Linked DNA regions of Homo sapiens: region 2 is linked to region 1. Evidence: fine-mapped expression QTL. Tissue or cell type: CD8 T cells. Region 1 holds a variant in brackets; the other region holds the start of a gene. All regions are shown on one strand. Distances are between the middles of the regions.

Region 1 (7,738 bases):
AACCAATAGTTATTTTCTTAAAAATGCACAGAAAATGCAATGGAATTTTTCTTTCTTTCCTGCAGCTCTGTTGTTATTGAAAAGGTCTCGGATTCCTATTTTTAAAGCAGATCGGCCATTCATCTATTTCCTGAGAGAACCTAACACAGGTATTACAGTATTTTTTGACAGGATTCAGATAATTTATCAGTGTCTCTCTAGCAACAAGGGCTCATTTGTCCACTATCCCCTCAAAAATAAGCATTCTTTCTAGCTGTTTTTATGGTGCTTCAGAAGCTACCCAGTTGCTATCTTCTATCCTAAGAAAGGGGACTATTTCGTAAGTACAAAGGAAACTTATCCTCCATGTTTTTTACCTTCTCATTCTCTCAGCTCATATATAGTTAATGTAGATTTTTTTTTTTAATGCTATAGGTTTCTACTTCTGAAGACACTTGGAAAAATCATGAAAGTAAAATAAATTATAAATCTTGCCCTTTTTTCCCTTTGTCCCCTAGCTTTCTTATCATTTTAGAGTTTTTTCAGGTCACTAGAGTACACCAGAGTAGTCCTCTTGTGATCCTAGTATTCTAATGAATGCACCTGGATTTCTATACTGTTCTGTTGATCTTTCTCAAAAATCAAATGTTTGCCCTAGTACTTTTAAGTCCTACTACATAACCTTATGGTAATCCAAAGATGGTGTGGTACCGGCAAAGCCTCAGTACATCAGAAGGACACACAAATATTCTTAGGCTTCGACAATATTGAACAAAGTCTTTAGATTATTTCTCTTAATGTTCTTCCTCCCCCACTCACAATTACTTAGCCTAGGAAGGAAAAGAGATTCTCAGTTAAGAGTTGTTGGCAAGTCTAAACAGTGTATTAAAAAGAAATAGGATAGAACAAGACTAATAAAATCAAGCAAAGGTGGATCTACTTTAACTAAACATCAGGCATTACTTTTATTTATGGAGAAAAATGTCAAAAGTTAGAATGAAAATTATGCATAGTTTTACATAAATTGTTAAGGAAATACTGTCAACATCATTTTATCTGAGAATCATTTGCATCCTGCTGTACCTTGTGCTAGAAATCAAAGGAACATTTTTGTGACGAGAAAGATATAAACCATTCACTAGAAAATAATCTATTTGGGATTATTTGGAGAGAAAAAGTCCATCAACAGAGTATGTCTTCCTAGTATTTCACCATGATCATCCCAACCACATAACGATTAGATGAAAATATCACTTATCACCCAGAACAGGCGGCAGAGAGCCTTCTCTTAGAAAGGACACGTCAAAAAAATGAAAGATGAGAAAAAGGACAGGTTCTACTCCCTAAGGAAACAAAGAGACAGGACTACATTTGAACAGAAAGGTCATTGCCAAAAGCCAATAGCCAATAAAGGTTGATAGGTAAAAGAGAGATTCTGATTTTGGAATTCAAGTGCATAAAAATGATGTAAAATCCTTAAACAAGGAAAAGACACACCACTATTTCAATGGTAGGAGTTTTCAGAACTGCCTCAGTAATCAGAATGAAAATATAAGGATAATCCAAAACCAGTTCCACAATCCACTGGAATTCTAATAGTCCTTGTGACTTTACCTCTATCTGGGAGGCATTAGCCTACATCACACAACACAGTGGCTGCTCTTCTGGTGATGGTTATGGAAGAGTTTAGAAATGAGTCTCAGCCTTCATTATTTCCAACTGACAAATCTTACTAAGAGCAACTAATGAATCAATCAGCAAATGAGAAACATGGGAGACATTAAAAAAAAAGATTTGAAAACCTCAAGATTAAACTTTCCAAGAATATCATTTGTCGAGCCTTAAGTCATTCAGTGACATAAAGGGCCTAAAAGACATGATGTTTCCCCTAGATGTATTTCCCTTCCCCTTTGACAATAATTCTACAACAAGTATTCTAATTTAACTAATATACCCATTTTTTTTTTAAATGAAAAAAGCCTGAGGGAGATGAGATATTAACCTTTAGTTCTGATAGGTTTCAAACCCTCCTGACCAGGTTTTAGGATGAGGTGAGAACAGTGGCAGAGAGATAAAGGACAAAAAGAAGAGATGAACAAAACTGCTACTTCTCACCTCCCTCCAGGGTTCATTCAGAAAAATGTATTAAAGGTCATGAGCAATCTGTGAAACAGAAAATAAAACTTTCTGATAAGGAAAGCTGCTCAATATTGGGATGGGCTGAATCTCTTTCCTAGATACTCTTGTTAAGTATGAATTTTTATCTGAATGACTTCTAATTCCTCCTAGTAATTCCAGAATCTAAATATATATAATTTAGGAACAGACAATATATTCTGGATTTTGTGTAACTCTCAATGAATTTAGCAATGTGACTACAGGCAATTACCTTAACAATTCCATCTATTAAATGTTATCTTGCATTACTTAAAAGTATTTGTATAGAAGTAAACAAAGCTTAAAGAACTGCATATGAAAATACTATATAATATTAAATTCTTCTTTTTCTTGACAGGGTTTGTCTTCAGTATTGGGAGAGTTTCAAATCCCCTAGACTAAATGCATGTTCTCCACTTTCATCAATGCTTTTCTTCATAAAGTTATAATTTCATTTTGCTATACCCTTGAAATTTAAAAAAATGTCTGATAAAGTGTAAAAAGCTAAGGGTATGTGATTTTCAATATTATAAACCTAAAAATACTTCAGTTTTTAAATGTTATAAGTTTATTTTGCCTACTCTTAATCCAAATCTATTTTGACCTTCTTTTCTACTGCTTACCCCCCAAACCACTAAAAGGCACAGCAGTGATCATGAATGGTGAGTGAGTCAGGCCATAAGATTGCTTCCTCAGTACGGATACTCTAGGCCATGTTGAATTGAGGGTGGAGAATGAATAGCGTGGTTTTCCTTATCCTGTGAAACTCAGGGGGGATGCAAAATGAGCAAAGTCATCTTAAAGGTGTTTCCTTTCCATTTAGCTTATAAATAAAACAGAGTTTAAGTGTGAGAACAGCAGAGCAGAACAAGGAGGCCTCCAATTTGTTGTGGGCTTTTGCAAGCATGGCATGAAGCTGCTAAAGGCTAGATATTTCAGAGCATGTACTGTACTCCAAACCTACCACTCCCTAACAGCTTCAGCTTCGTGCCATCCACAATCCTAGTGATAAAGGAAAAGGTGTTGAAGTAAGGAAACCAATAATATCCAAAGTTGTTTGCTTTTTAAATAGCTTTTAAAGTATCTGTCTATCTGCCCCATACAAAGTCATTCCCATAATCTAGGCAGAAATGGGAGTATGTTGGCATGGCCAACAAAAACTACGAACATATAGTAAAAAGGCAATGCAGATTATGTAACATGTAATTACAGTTAGGCTTAACAAACATGAACTTCAAGTGGTGTATTTTTCCAATGCTAAAAAGCAAGGCCTTTAAAATTCCATTATCTTAGGATGTTTTTAAATGATTACTTTAAATGTGATTATTTCCTAAACCACACAAGAGTAAAATAGAGCATTTATTGATGGAATAACAAAAGTGCTTTTCTTAAATATTCTTCAAAATACATTTGTACAACTTACAATAATATATCCAAAATAACTGTATATACAAAACATTACCTAGTTTTAATGTATGTGCTTTTTTCCCCAAAAATTACAAAGTAACTT[C/CT]TTTTTTTTTTGGCAAAGTTCAACCTTAACAGAGGTGACAATTTTAAAGGTTGGTTTAAGAAAATAGAACCTGAGGGAAATTGACACGCAAGAGTCAATGACAAGCAAGAGATTTGGAGGAATATTTTTAGTTTGTTAAATTAAAAATGTTTTTTAGAGTGATACTTTTCACATTACAAAAATAAACCAAAATGAAGAAAAGGTCACTGTAAAATGATGGAAAAAGGATCTGTAGATTTGCTTTTAGTATTTCAAATAGCCAACAATGCATGTCAGAAAATGAATGCAAGATCACAACAGTCTTGTATTTACTTTGTATTTGAAGAAGATAGTGAAATAAGTGGCCACATTCTATTTTCTTTTAATTGCTATTAATATGGTTGATCTGATTGGCTCTTCGATGAATTTCATCCAAGAAGTTCTCCAGTTGTTCTATTAGCATTCGTTTTTTAAACCTGTATGAAAAAATAAATAGTACTCTCAATTACTTTTTAATGAATAGTATATATCAGTATAATTTTTTTAAGAAAGGAGAGAAAATTTTGGGAAGATTTTTCAAAGTGAAATGAAAATAGAAAAATCAATACTACGACAATATAAAATATGTTGAAAGATTAGCAAATTATTATCCTAGTACAGTATTATAGTTTGTCCCTAAAACACTCTAGGGCTAAACAATGGGAAAGAGGTTGTTCCTTCCACAACCGAAAAGAAAAAGGAAAAAACAAACAAAAAAACAAAAAACTAATATATTCAAAATATATTCAAGGGCTGCAAACACTCTAGTGAAATTTGGGCTCCCCAAGCAAATACTTCAATAGCTTCTTCTCATGCTCTTTGTAAGCTGAATATTGAAAGGAATGTGAACAAAGTATGAATATAATCTCCCACAAAATGGAAGAAGAAATGAAAATTGGTCAGCAGCATTTAAAAACCATGGTATTCTATTACAATTTGAGAGCTAGCAAATCAAGGATAGACATCTATAATACAGAGTATAGCAAGCAGTTAAAGTTCAAGTAACAACTTTTAAAGATTTTCAGTAACAAATATGGACAGACTAAAATTGCATCTGTATACGTAACTGCTGACGGTTTTAAGAATATCCCAAGACACTGGACATTTTATTCCTACTTCCTTGCTACTTAGAAGCTAATATAAATAGCCACCATAATACTACACAACTCTCTAAAAGGTGGCAGAAGTGAAGTACAGATACCGGGGATATAAATTCCTAATGAGGTTTTAGCTGACAGAATGTTACCATAAAGAGCATAATAGGTTAAATACTCAAAATTACATGAAAAGTTATAGCCTTATCTTGATCCTGCAAACTGGCCTATGCTCTAGCCACTCCAAAAGTACAAAAAGAAAAGAAAACCAGAAACAAAACCAACTTTATCTAAAATCTTCATGTGTAGCATAGAAGAGACAGGGGGACAAAGTATAAGTGTGTTTACATTTAGAAGGTGGGATGTGATAAGCCCCAAGTTTTCTTATAATACTAAAATCCCCAAAATCTTGAAGGGAAAATAAAAAATGTTTTTAAACTCATACAACTATGTTTTCCAGTTAATTGCACTTCTTAATTACCATTTATAACCTTTATCCACCTTCTTTACACAGTGATCCCTCGGTATGGATGGGGGATTTATTCTAGGCCTCCCTATGAACACTAAAATCCACGAATGCTCAAGTCCCTTGTATAAAATGGCCCAATATTTGCATGTAACCTATGTACATTCTCCCATATGCTCTAAATAATCTCTACATTATTTATAATACTAATACAGTGTAAATACGATATGAATTAGACTGAATTATTTAGAAAATGACAAGAAAAAAAAAGCCTGTACATATTCAATACAGATACAACCATCCATTTCCCCGCCTCCAAATACTTTCAATCTGTGGTTGCTTGAATCCAATGAATGTGGAACCCAGGGATACAGAGGGCCAATGTACTAATGATCCTGGGCTACTGAAACAATCAGAATAAGGCCCATTTGTCCAATTCTTGTCTCCTTAATTACGTTTTCCCATGTAAAAATAAATGACACTCAAGTACGTTATTTTTAGTCACCAATATTAATGTATAAAGGAGAAAAATTAAAGGTTATAAAATATTAATGTAAAGATATCAAAAAGCTACAGAGAAGAATAACAAGAATTCTCCAAGTATCCAGTAATTTGTAGGGAGAAAAGGTCCATAATTCCTGAAGAATGTATGTGTGGCTGTTTTCTAAGTGAATTTCTTTCAATAAACTAAAAAAGAATAAGAATTTATTTATATGTTGGTATGCCATATACATTTATAAACAATACAAGTGCAAAACGGATACTATTAAAATACTGCCTATATAAACTGTGGACTCATTTCATCACCATTTCATTATATGCAATAGTTTATTTACCTTGATGCTTCTTTAATGACATTTTGTAAAAATATTAGTCTTGTTTGTAAACTGCCTTGCACATGCTTCAGTAAAGTGAAGATTCTTTCATATTCTTAAAGCAAAAGAAACAAAAAGAAAAATTAAGTGCCTTTCATTTGTATTCTTATTCAATATTCTTCTTTTGCAGTTTATGATATTAAGATATACTGAGATAAAAACATTCTACATAAAAATTTCACCACTCATTAGAGATTTTATATTTTAACATATATGTAAAAGTAAGTACACAGCAACAAAGATAAAACAACTAATCAAACCCTGCTTTGTAAGTAAAAGTTCCTATTAAGGTATCAAACATAAAGCTTAAAAGGATGAGTAAATAGCTTTATGGTAGTATCACTAAAAAATAAGAACAAGTGGCCTTTACAAAACTCCATCCTTACAGTTTAAAATTCTAACAGCTAACATGGGGGTAACTGGGAAGTGGGGGTAAAAACCAGACAGGTTAAGAGTGTTATTTCAGTTTAAAGTTTTCATATGAAACTCTGCAAGGGCTATAAACGTCTGAACTCCAAGGACTGATTTGTTCCCATTTCTGGACCACCCAGGTCATTCTACTACCCCAGGGCAAGTGATCTGTTAACATCCTCTAAATGAATGCCAATAATACTGAACTTTTTCCCACGAAGTTCTTTTGTGTTCATATACCAGAGAGCTTTCATAACTTTAGTTTTTTGGCCTAAACATATCCTATAATATCACAGTTTAACTACTAAACATAGTGGTAGGCACTATGACAAGAACTTTACAGACATGAAGTCATTTAATTTTCACTATATCTCTTGTGAGCTAGCTGCTATATTAAAATTCCATCGTTGGTCAGAATATTCAAGACTATGGGTTCCTGTCAATTTATCTGTACAGTGTTGCTCTGCTCTCAGTCCCTGCTGCCTACCACCATACCTAGTACCTTGGAAATAGAAGATATTTGGTGTTGGTCAGATGAATAAAGGATCTTAACTGAGATGTTGTTCAAGACAGATCTAGAATCATATGTATTCTTTTACTACAGTTACTTGACTTTTTTTTTCTTTTTTGCTTTTTGAGCACATACAGAAATCAGATCTGAGGTTCGTCTCTTATTATACATACTTCTTCCTGGCTTTCGGATCTCTTTCATTATTTGTGCTTTTAGTTCAGTATTGACCTCTTCATGGCTTCTGCAATGCATCAATTTCTTTCCTTTGTTGAGTGAAGATGCTGGTATGTTCTCTTCAGCACATTGTTCTTTATCTCTTGGCTCCTCATGATTTTCTAAAAATCCACCAACAGTGAGGTCATTGGTTCCTAAATGGTCATGACCAAGAGCCTCCATATGATTGGTTGGCCGTTCCAGTAAACTGGCTGGAGAAGATGCTGAAAATTCCGTATCCATAGCATTTGGTGTAATGTCTGATGAAAGTTGGTCTGCAACATGATTTTCAACCACATCATGTATTATCGAATCATTAGTGGTTTCTGAAACTAAAAACAAAGATACGGGGAAAAAATTATGGGATCCAGTCTCAAAGCATACAGTAAATAAAGCTACAAAAGAACATTACTACAGCAAGTCAACTGTTTTCCTTGACTAATGCAAGTTAACAAATAATGTGATATAGTTTTTAAGCATTGCCAAAGATACGGTAGATTTCAA
Region 2 (7,738 bases), 88 kb after region 1:
GATGCAGAAAAAGAGGAAACTAATAGTTCTGCCATACACTAACAACATGACAACCAAATAAAGGTAACCAAATAATGGCAAGTTTTAAATATCTCTTTGAACTCAAAGAGGTAAGGATGAAAACCTTAAGCAGTAAGACTGTGTTGCACTACATATCACAAAGGAATATAAAAGAGAAGGAAATCCACTACTATTTTACAGAAACAAACCAAAAAGTTCATTGCAAATCTACCTAAATTATTAAAAGTTGCAAAATAAAAGCAGCAGAGATGGGAAAAACATAAAAGTATTAATGTGGTAAGAAAGTACATATTTACCTAACTAAACGTTGGAAGTTCAATTTGGTAAGCTCACTCTGAATTTCAGTGTACATTTTAAATGTTATAGAACTAAATTCAGTTATTTCCAAAGACACTTAAGCACTGAAGTTATCCCTAAGAAGCTTAAAATTTCCTAAAACAGAAACAAGTCAATTTCCTTCAATAGGAAGCAAATAAAAGTTGTAGTCACAGAAAGAATTTCCCTGAAATGTACGAAACTCACAAAACTAGGGACTGTGGGACTTGGGAAAATACAACATATACCCAATATATAATTAGGAATAGTGCTTTTCACTACAACATAAGAACTGAGCTCCTTGGAAATAATATTCCTTTGTTACATGTAACATTATACATTGTTCAGTATCTTTTATTTCCAGGGCAATAATATCATAAAATGTTACAATAGACCACCTTGCATTATTCCTTAGTGAATTATTGTTGATTTAAAGCTCCTCTCATCCTCAAATACATGAAAGTAAGTGCAATAAAAGGACTTGTGGGGGTTAAGAAACGAAGGGTTCTTTCATATTTTCCAGCAGTCTTTTTTTCCAAGGGTTTGGAGTTTAAATCAAAACTCTGGGCCTGAAATTTAATTCAGAGTTCTTCCTGCAATAGTTGTTAACTGTGTATGCTTCAAAAGAAAACTTAAATGTTCTCAGCCAGTGACTGTACTCCAGTGAAAAACTTCTTACCTTTCAGAATAGTTATACAACATGGTCACATTAAACCCTGATGCAACAAACAGATTAATTTCCTCTAACATCTTTACTAATATAGAAACGAAGAACACGAACTAGTGTCTCTAAGCCACTATAATAGTTGCACATACAACATGAGTGTGGTGTGGTAGGATGCTTTTCCTTTTAGGTCTTTACTGAACTTTCAAGGGATTAAAACCAATGTATGTCAACTTTATAGCAAAAGTTTCAGATTCTAATCCTGAATACCAATGCATTTTAGAGGGGGAAAAAATGAGGGATGTAAAATATATATAGTAGGGTAAGAGTTTTGCCTTTGAACAATGTGCATATTCTATTTTAATTTGGAATGTTTTATACTTGCATTTCATGTTATGTAGTTTTTGGACTGGACTGTGTTTTTCCACAAAATGAAAAATCAACTATTTTGCCACCTTATTATTCAACCTACCTGCCCATAGTTGTCTATGCCAGTTACTAATCTATTTAAATTTAATAAATCAAAAGCTGTCCTTAGGGATTGGCCAAGAGTCGTAAGTCCTTCAGCCTGAAGGTTTTTCAATTCATTCATAAACGTTGCATGGTTTTCTTTCCATCCAGCCTGAAAAGAAAAATGTAAGATTTTTTTTTTTCATTTTTTAAAGCCATGTACACAGAGCCGTTATAATCTGACGTTCACCAAGTAGCAGCTTCACTTTTGGTTGGTTTGGCTTGGTTAACGTGTTAATACTGTACCGCTGCTGAGGAAACTCTCTTCCAAAGGTGGCCCAGGAATAACCCAGCTTCCTCTCTAGGTTTTGGTAGTTAACTGCCTTAATACTTTATAACTTCACTGACAAATTTACTACCTAATCTAATACCCAAAATTTGGGTATGTGAAGGTACTAGTGGAAGCAGATGGGAGCCGGACTTAGGAAGTTAACCTGCAGCTGTCCCACCGGCCCTCTTAGGACGAATCTGACAAGACCAATCCTGGCAGCCCCGCATCTGGCTTCCGGGCCGGCCGGGCCGATTCCCCTTTAATGCAAACCGGGGCTGTGCGCGGCCGGGCCCGGCTGTCACTCCGGCTAACTTGAATAAATATCCCCCACAGTTCATTGCTGCCGCTCACGCCGCGGAGGGGAAATGTCGGCCATGTTGATAGCAGCGCCGCCGCCGCCGCCGCCGCCGCCGCTGCCGGGCCGGGCCGGGAGGGGACGGCGGTGGCCCCGCGACTCCGCGCCGCGCTAGGACGCTGCCGAGCGGGGGAGGGGGTGGGAGCCCGCAGGGAAGAGACCTCAGCGGCTGGGAGCGCAGCGGGTGGGGGAGGGGAGCATAATGAAGGGTGAATGGGGGGGCGGGGAGGGCGAGCGAGGAAGGAACAGGGAAGGGAAGGGAGGAAAGGGGGAGGGCGAGGGCTGTTACCTTGATAGCATAGGGCGGCTCTTCGAAAGTGACCAGCATATACCTGTCTCCTCTGCTGGCAGGGTCCCGGGCACGGAGCTGCGGGACGGGAGGAGGAACAGGGCGGGCGACAGGGAAGCACAGAGGCGAGGTTACGAGGCGGAGAAGGGGCGCCCAGCGGCCCCGCCGCCCCCACAGTACCGCACACGCAGCGGCCACCCCTCCACGCCGTCCCCCACACACAGATCGCTCCCCACACACCGCCCGGGGCCGGAGCCCGGGCCCCGGCCGAACCCGGCTCGCAGCGCCCGCCCGCCCGCGCGGTGGGGGAGGGGGTCCCCGAGCCCGGCAGCTCCCGCAGTCAGGTCCCCGACACCCCCGCCCCGGCCGCCCTCCCCCACCCTGCCGCCCGCGGGCCGCCGGGCCGGGGTCGCCGCCCGGGCTCGGTCAGTCGGTACCTTCATGAAGGTCTCTACCGCGCCTTTGGCCGTGTCCAGGTAGGTGGTGCCCAGATGGCTGCGCTGGTTCATAGAGGCAGACGTGTCTATCAGGAACAGTAAGATGGGCATAGTGCTGGCCGGGGACACCGGGGCCCGAGGTGGTGGAGAAAGAGGAGATGGTAGAGGTGGAGGCGCCGGTGGCGGCGACCGCCGCTACGCGGGGCGGGGGAGCACGGCCCCCGGGAGGAAAACACTGTCTGGGTCTTTCCTCCGGCTGCGGGGAGTTTCTCCCCCGATAGTTGAGAGGAAACTCCCCAGACCCAGTGCTCCCCGTCGTACCCCCGCCTCCGCCTCCTCCTGCCTGCCTGCCCGCTGGGGCGGGCGCCCAGCCGTCTGTCTGTCGGTTCGTCCCCCCCGCCTCGGGGGTCCCGTCCCCGCTCCCGGCCCCTGTGTGTGTCCCAGCGGGAGACGGGCCTGGCTCCCCACCCCACCCCCGGTACAGGAGTGGGGACCTGGGAGCTGGCGAAGAGGGGAGTGGGCTGAGGGAAGATTGGCCCTGGGGCTGTTGGGAGAAGTTTCAGGGACTCCCTCCGCACCCCGGCGGTGTCACCACTTTCTCAGCCCCTCTCGCTACTGAAGCGCTTTTCTCTCTCACACTCCGGTTTTAACTCGGGCAGGGGCTGCGGAGGCTCCGCCCCTGACACGTCCCCGAGCCACGTGATACACCGCCTCGCCGTTCTACTGGTCAGGCCCTATCCTTTCATTAGCATATTTAAACAGCTCAGGGGCGGGGGAAGCTTGTAGGCCGGCTCCGGGGACAGTTATTGAGCACGCGCAGAGGCGGGGCGTCGGGTGCGCGCGAGCGGGCGGGCGGGCCGACCCGGAGGCGGGCTTCGGGAAGGGGCGGGGCCGGACTGCGGAAGGACCGCGAGGTGGGGGCGGGGGCCGCGTCCGCGCGCGCGGGGCGGCCGCGGCGGTGAGCCTGCGCGTCAGGGCCGCCGGCCTCTCCTTGGCTGTTGGAGGTGATAGGGGTCGAGGGGAGGGAAAAAGGGGCTGGCGTCAGCCGCCCCTGTGAGGTGGCCGTAGCGTGGACGAGTAAGAAGGGTTGAGTAAAGTGGACAAACACCTGGTTAGGAGAAGAGGGCAGGCCCGCAGCCGCCCTCCGGAGGAGGACTCGGGGCCTCGCGGGCGCCGGAGGAGGTTCCTGGGCCTCGGAGGGCCGCCCCGGCGCGCCGCCCCGGCGCGAGCGGGCGCGGGCGGGGGAGGGGAAGTGAGAGGTTGTTTATGACCGGGGACTAATCTCCTCCGCGAGTCCCAGCGCTCCCTCTGGGGAGTGCGGTTGAGGGGCTGTCCTCGCACGGAGCCTCGCTCGGCCTCGGGGGAGCCACGAGAGGTGGGAGTTGGACCCGCAGCGGGCCAGGAGCCCTGTCATTGGAGGACCCGCCAAAAAGGAAGCAAACCCTCTTTTTCTTTATCCAACCCCAAATAGCTAGGGCCTAGGGGGAAGACTCACATATCGATAAATGGTTTGTTGCCCGTTTTATTCTCTGGGAAATACAACTGATCTTACCAAAGAAATAACCTGTCTCTTGCCGTGTTTACTTAGAGCCATAGAATACCTGTTTCAGAGCTGAAGGGGACCTGAGCCCATGATAATCCATTACCTCGTGAGAAAGCGGAAAAACTGACTTCAGCTTGCCCAGATGGCGCAGAGAATGGGTTTCCCGTAACCCCGCCTGTGTCTTTCCTTCAGCCTCGTCCCAAATGCCGTGGGAGGGAAGGCACTCTCTGTCAAGCTGCTGTCACCTTACCTGAAGTAAGGAGTCCACGCCTGCATGTCCGAGGAAAACAGTTTTCTCAAACACATTAGTTGAAAAACTGAAGACGCTGCCTAAAATACAAGCTGAGTTAGAGACAGCCCTTGTAAGACTAGGTAGGTATTTACAGGGCCTCTCCCACTAGCTTTGTTTTTCCAGAGTTTGTTCTTTATCCGGAAATTCTTAATTTGCCTACTGATCATTTAAAGAAAGGGTTCTATTAACATTGACACAGAAGAGACACTTTGTGGCACTTTTTAAAAATCTGAGTCTCGTGACTTGGTATAACTTCTGAAACTTACTGTTAATTTATAGCAGAGCTATTTGAGTAATATGCTCTTCTATGAGTATGAACAATAGAAGAAGTGTGATTTTTAAAGTGATTTGGACTACAAAATAAGAGCATGGAATATAGGCTTTACAGCCAGTACTTGCTGAGGATGTACTGTGTATTAGGTGTGGTGCATATAAAAAATAAATAAAATGTGGTCCCTGTCTTCAAAGAGCTTATGTTTTCTAGGAAAATGCTACATATTACTAGCTACTCCAAGGCAGAAAGTTGTTAGACACCAAATCAGAAAAAATAAAAATGTATTACCTTGGGGTGATGCAGGAACATTTTCCAAGGTTTCAGCTTTGCCTTAGTGTTTCTTAAACGGATCATAGATCTGAAGATAAGAATCAGAGTTCTATGGCAAAATACGAGTTATTTTACCAGTTATAAAGATGAAATTTGTCTTTCAACTTGATCATTTGCATAATTTTATACAATTGCTCTTTAGTTCTTTATATTTGTGCTTTTCAAACTGGTCTGTGGACCCCAGCCTACTGAAAACATTCTCTAGGATCATAAGAATTTATTTTAGGAGTCTGTTCATTATTCAGTTTTAAGAAACACTGTCTTAAAGGACTGGTAGGATTTGGATATGGGTAAAGGAAGGGGAAGCTGCTAGTGAAAAGATCTTCCCGACATTGAAAATGTGAAGAAAGGAAGTTAAGACAGCATTGCTGAGGGCTTCCTGAGGAACAGTGAAGTTCAGCTAGGTTGGAGCAACAGGTGCATGTAGAATAGTACAAGATCTAGAAACACAGGTGAGATCTAGACAGTAGAGGGCCTTTATTCCAATCTATGGAGGTTTTTTTTCCCCTATAAATTGGAGATTTATTTTTCAATTGCGTTGCTAAGTAGAAGCAATGTTTGAAAGAAATCAAACTAGACTACTGAAGATTAACATGCGTTCACAATGACCTTACCTATTATTACAGTTATTCGAAATCATTTTTCAGTGGAGCCATTGTCACAGGATCCTTGGAGTGTCACTTTTCCAGCTGGAAAAATGGCACCTCTGCCCGAATTTTGGTCGGGCTCATTCTGCCCACCAGTCCCAGCAGGCTGCACTCTGCTCATACTACGGCCTGGATCCCACACCTGCCAAGTGCAAGCCAGGTGCGGAGCAGCGAGGGGTGTGTGAGCGAGCAAGCATGGGGTCCGGCCACTGTATACAGCCCGGCATGCCAGCTGCAGGAGGGCGGGCAGCTCTAGGGGCTGGCCCCTTGCAAGGCTGTGGCTGGTCCAGGTGTACTGCAAGCAGCTTCCACAGCTGGCACCAGGGAATGCAGTGGCACCTGGAAGCTTGGAGATGCCAGGAGCTGCAGAGCCCCAAAGAGGTTGTCACAGGGAGCTCCTAGGTCTAGGCTTCCTAAAGGGCCACAGCTCTTCTCTCCTCTCTTCCCCCTTCTCTTTCCTTTCTTCTTCTCTTCTTCTCTCTTCTCTTGTTGTGTTGCCCACAACATGGCAAGCAAGGGGCATATTTCAGCCCGTTTGTGTTACAGCTCTTTCAGCCATGCCATTTGGCAGGTCCCGAGTTATTGTCCCACATCCAGGAAGAATGAGGTATGTGGACAAGTGGAGGGTGAGCAAGGCAAAGAGGTGCTTTGTTGAGTGACAGAACAGCTCAGAGGAGACCTGAGGGCAATGAGTAGCTTCTTTCTGCAGGCAGGTCATCCCAATAAGTGTCCAGCTCTCAGCAGAGAGGAGACCCACAATGGGTAGTTCCTCTCAGCAGGCAGGTGGTCCTGTCATCTGCTCAGCTCTCCACAGAGGAGACCCACAGTGTCCATAGACCCACAGTGGGTAGCTCCTGTCTGCAAGCAGGTCATCTCATTGTCTGCCCAAGTCTGGTTCACTCCAGGGTTTTTATGGGCTTCTGAGAGGAAGAAGTGTGTGCTGATTGGTCCATGGCGCAGCCATGGGCAGGCCTGGAGAAAGCACCATAAGTTCTCACTCCGTTGCATGGAACTGGCAGCCTGACCCCTGGCGTTACCGGGGACCCACCCCTTTCCGCCCAGGAGCCTGTGTGGATCCTGCTGCCATTAACCTGCCATCCACAGTGCCCATGGCGCCCAGGTTGTTCATGCTAAGTGGTACCTACAGGCCTTCACTGAGATGTCCTTATTCCCGCCTCGGCCTGCCTCCCTCCTGTGCTCATCAGCACCCAAAGTCCAGAGGGGACTGAGGCAGCATGGGGCTTGCGTGTCAATGCTGCCCCAAGCACGTGCACACCTGGTCGGGTCGTGACAGCACCCAGGCTTAGTCACAACTTTGCTCTGAAATCAGAGCGGGTGCTGGGAGCGGGGAGAGGCCAGGCAGTGGGAGCAGGCACTTCCAAGCCTGCGGGAGCAGGGAGCTTCCTGGTCCCCTGAGAGTGGGTCTTCTCTCTGTGGAGAGCTGAGAAGATGACGGGATGACTTGCCTGCTGAGAGGAACTACCCACTGTGGGTCTCCTCTCTGCTAAGAGCTGGACACTTATTGGGATGACTTGCCTGCAGAAAGAAGCTACCCATTGCCCTCAGGTCTCCTCTGAGCTGTTCTGTCGCTCAGCAAAGCACCTCTTTGCCTTGCTTACCCTCCACTTGTCCGGAGATGAATGGGTCCACAACCATGACTGGGTGGCTGCAGCTGCACTCAGGAGGGCAGGACTCCCACTCTTCCAACTTGGAAGCGGGCAGGGCTTCTGCCTGTTCCCAGCTCTTGCTGGCTCCATAGAGCACCGCCGCGGCTGTAGCCGTGCCTCCCC

Which allele goes with the higher level. Positions count from the first base shown, and alleles are read on the strand shown. Sizes are in standard deviations (SD) of each study's normalised expression.
As copies of C replace CT in region 1, the expression in CD8 T cells of the gene that starts at base 3,484 in region 2 goes down (moderate effect, 0.70 SD a copy in CEDAR).

What was found. PIP is the estimated chance that this variant, and not a neighbour inherited with it, causes the effect.
Region 2: it holds the start of INTS6, and the variant in region 1 is fine-mapped to the expression of INTS6 in CD8 T cells (CEDAR, PIP 0.95).

Annotation. Positions count from the first base shown.
Region 1 is chr13:51,361,745-51,369,482 of GRCh38, forward strand. It overlaps SERPINE3 (serpin family E member 3), which reads left to right. Exons shown (of 10, transcript NM_001386375.1): 9 at 66-149; 10 at 2,495-2,991. The coding sequence ends at 2,538. It overlaps INTS6 (integrator complex subunit 6), which reads right to left. Exons shown (of 18, transcript NM_012141.3): 16 at 7,195-7,566; 17 at 6,061-6,154; 18 at 1-4,101. The coding sequence ends at 4,008. Among named protein-coding and RNA genes, the nearest start is that of MIR5693, 17 kb to the left of the region's middle. The variant C/CT (reference allele first, on the strand shown) is at 3,647.
Region 2 is chr13:51,449,553-51,457,290 of GRCh38, forward strand. It overlaps INTS6 (integrator complex subunit 6), which reads right to left and starts at 3,484. Exons shown (of 18, transcript NM_012141.3): 1 at 2,863-3,484; 2 at 2,426-2,503; 3 at 1,473-1,622. The coding sequence starts at 2,973. It overlaps INTS6-AS1 (INTS6 antisense RNA 1), which reads left to right and starts at 3,793. Exons shown (of 2, transcript NR_103812.1): 1 at 3,793-3,866; 2 at 4,451-5,164. RefSeq lists silencers at 2,020-2,069, 2,130-2,289, 2,360-2,499, 2,510-2,629, 2,640-2,909 and 3 more and an enhancer at 3,470-3,519.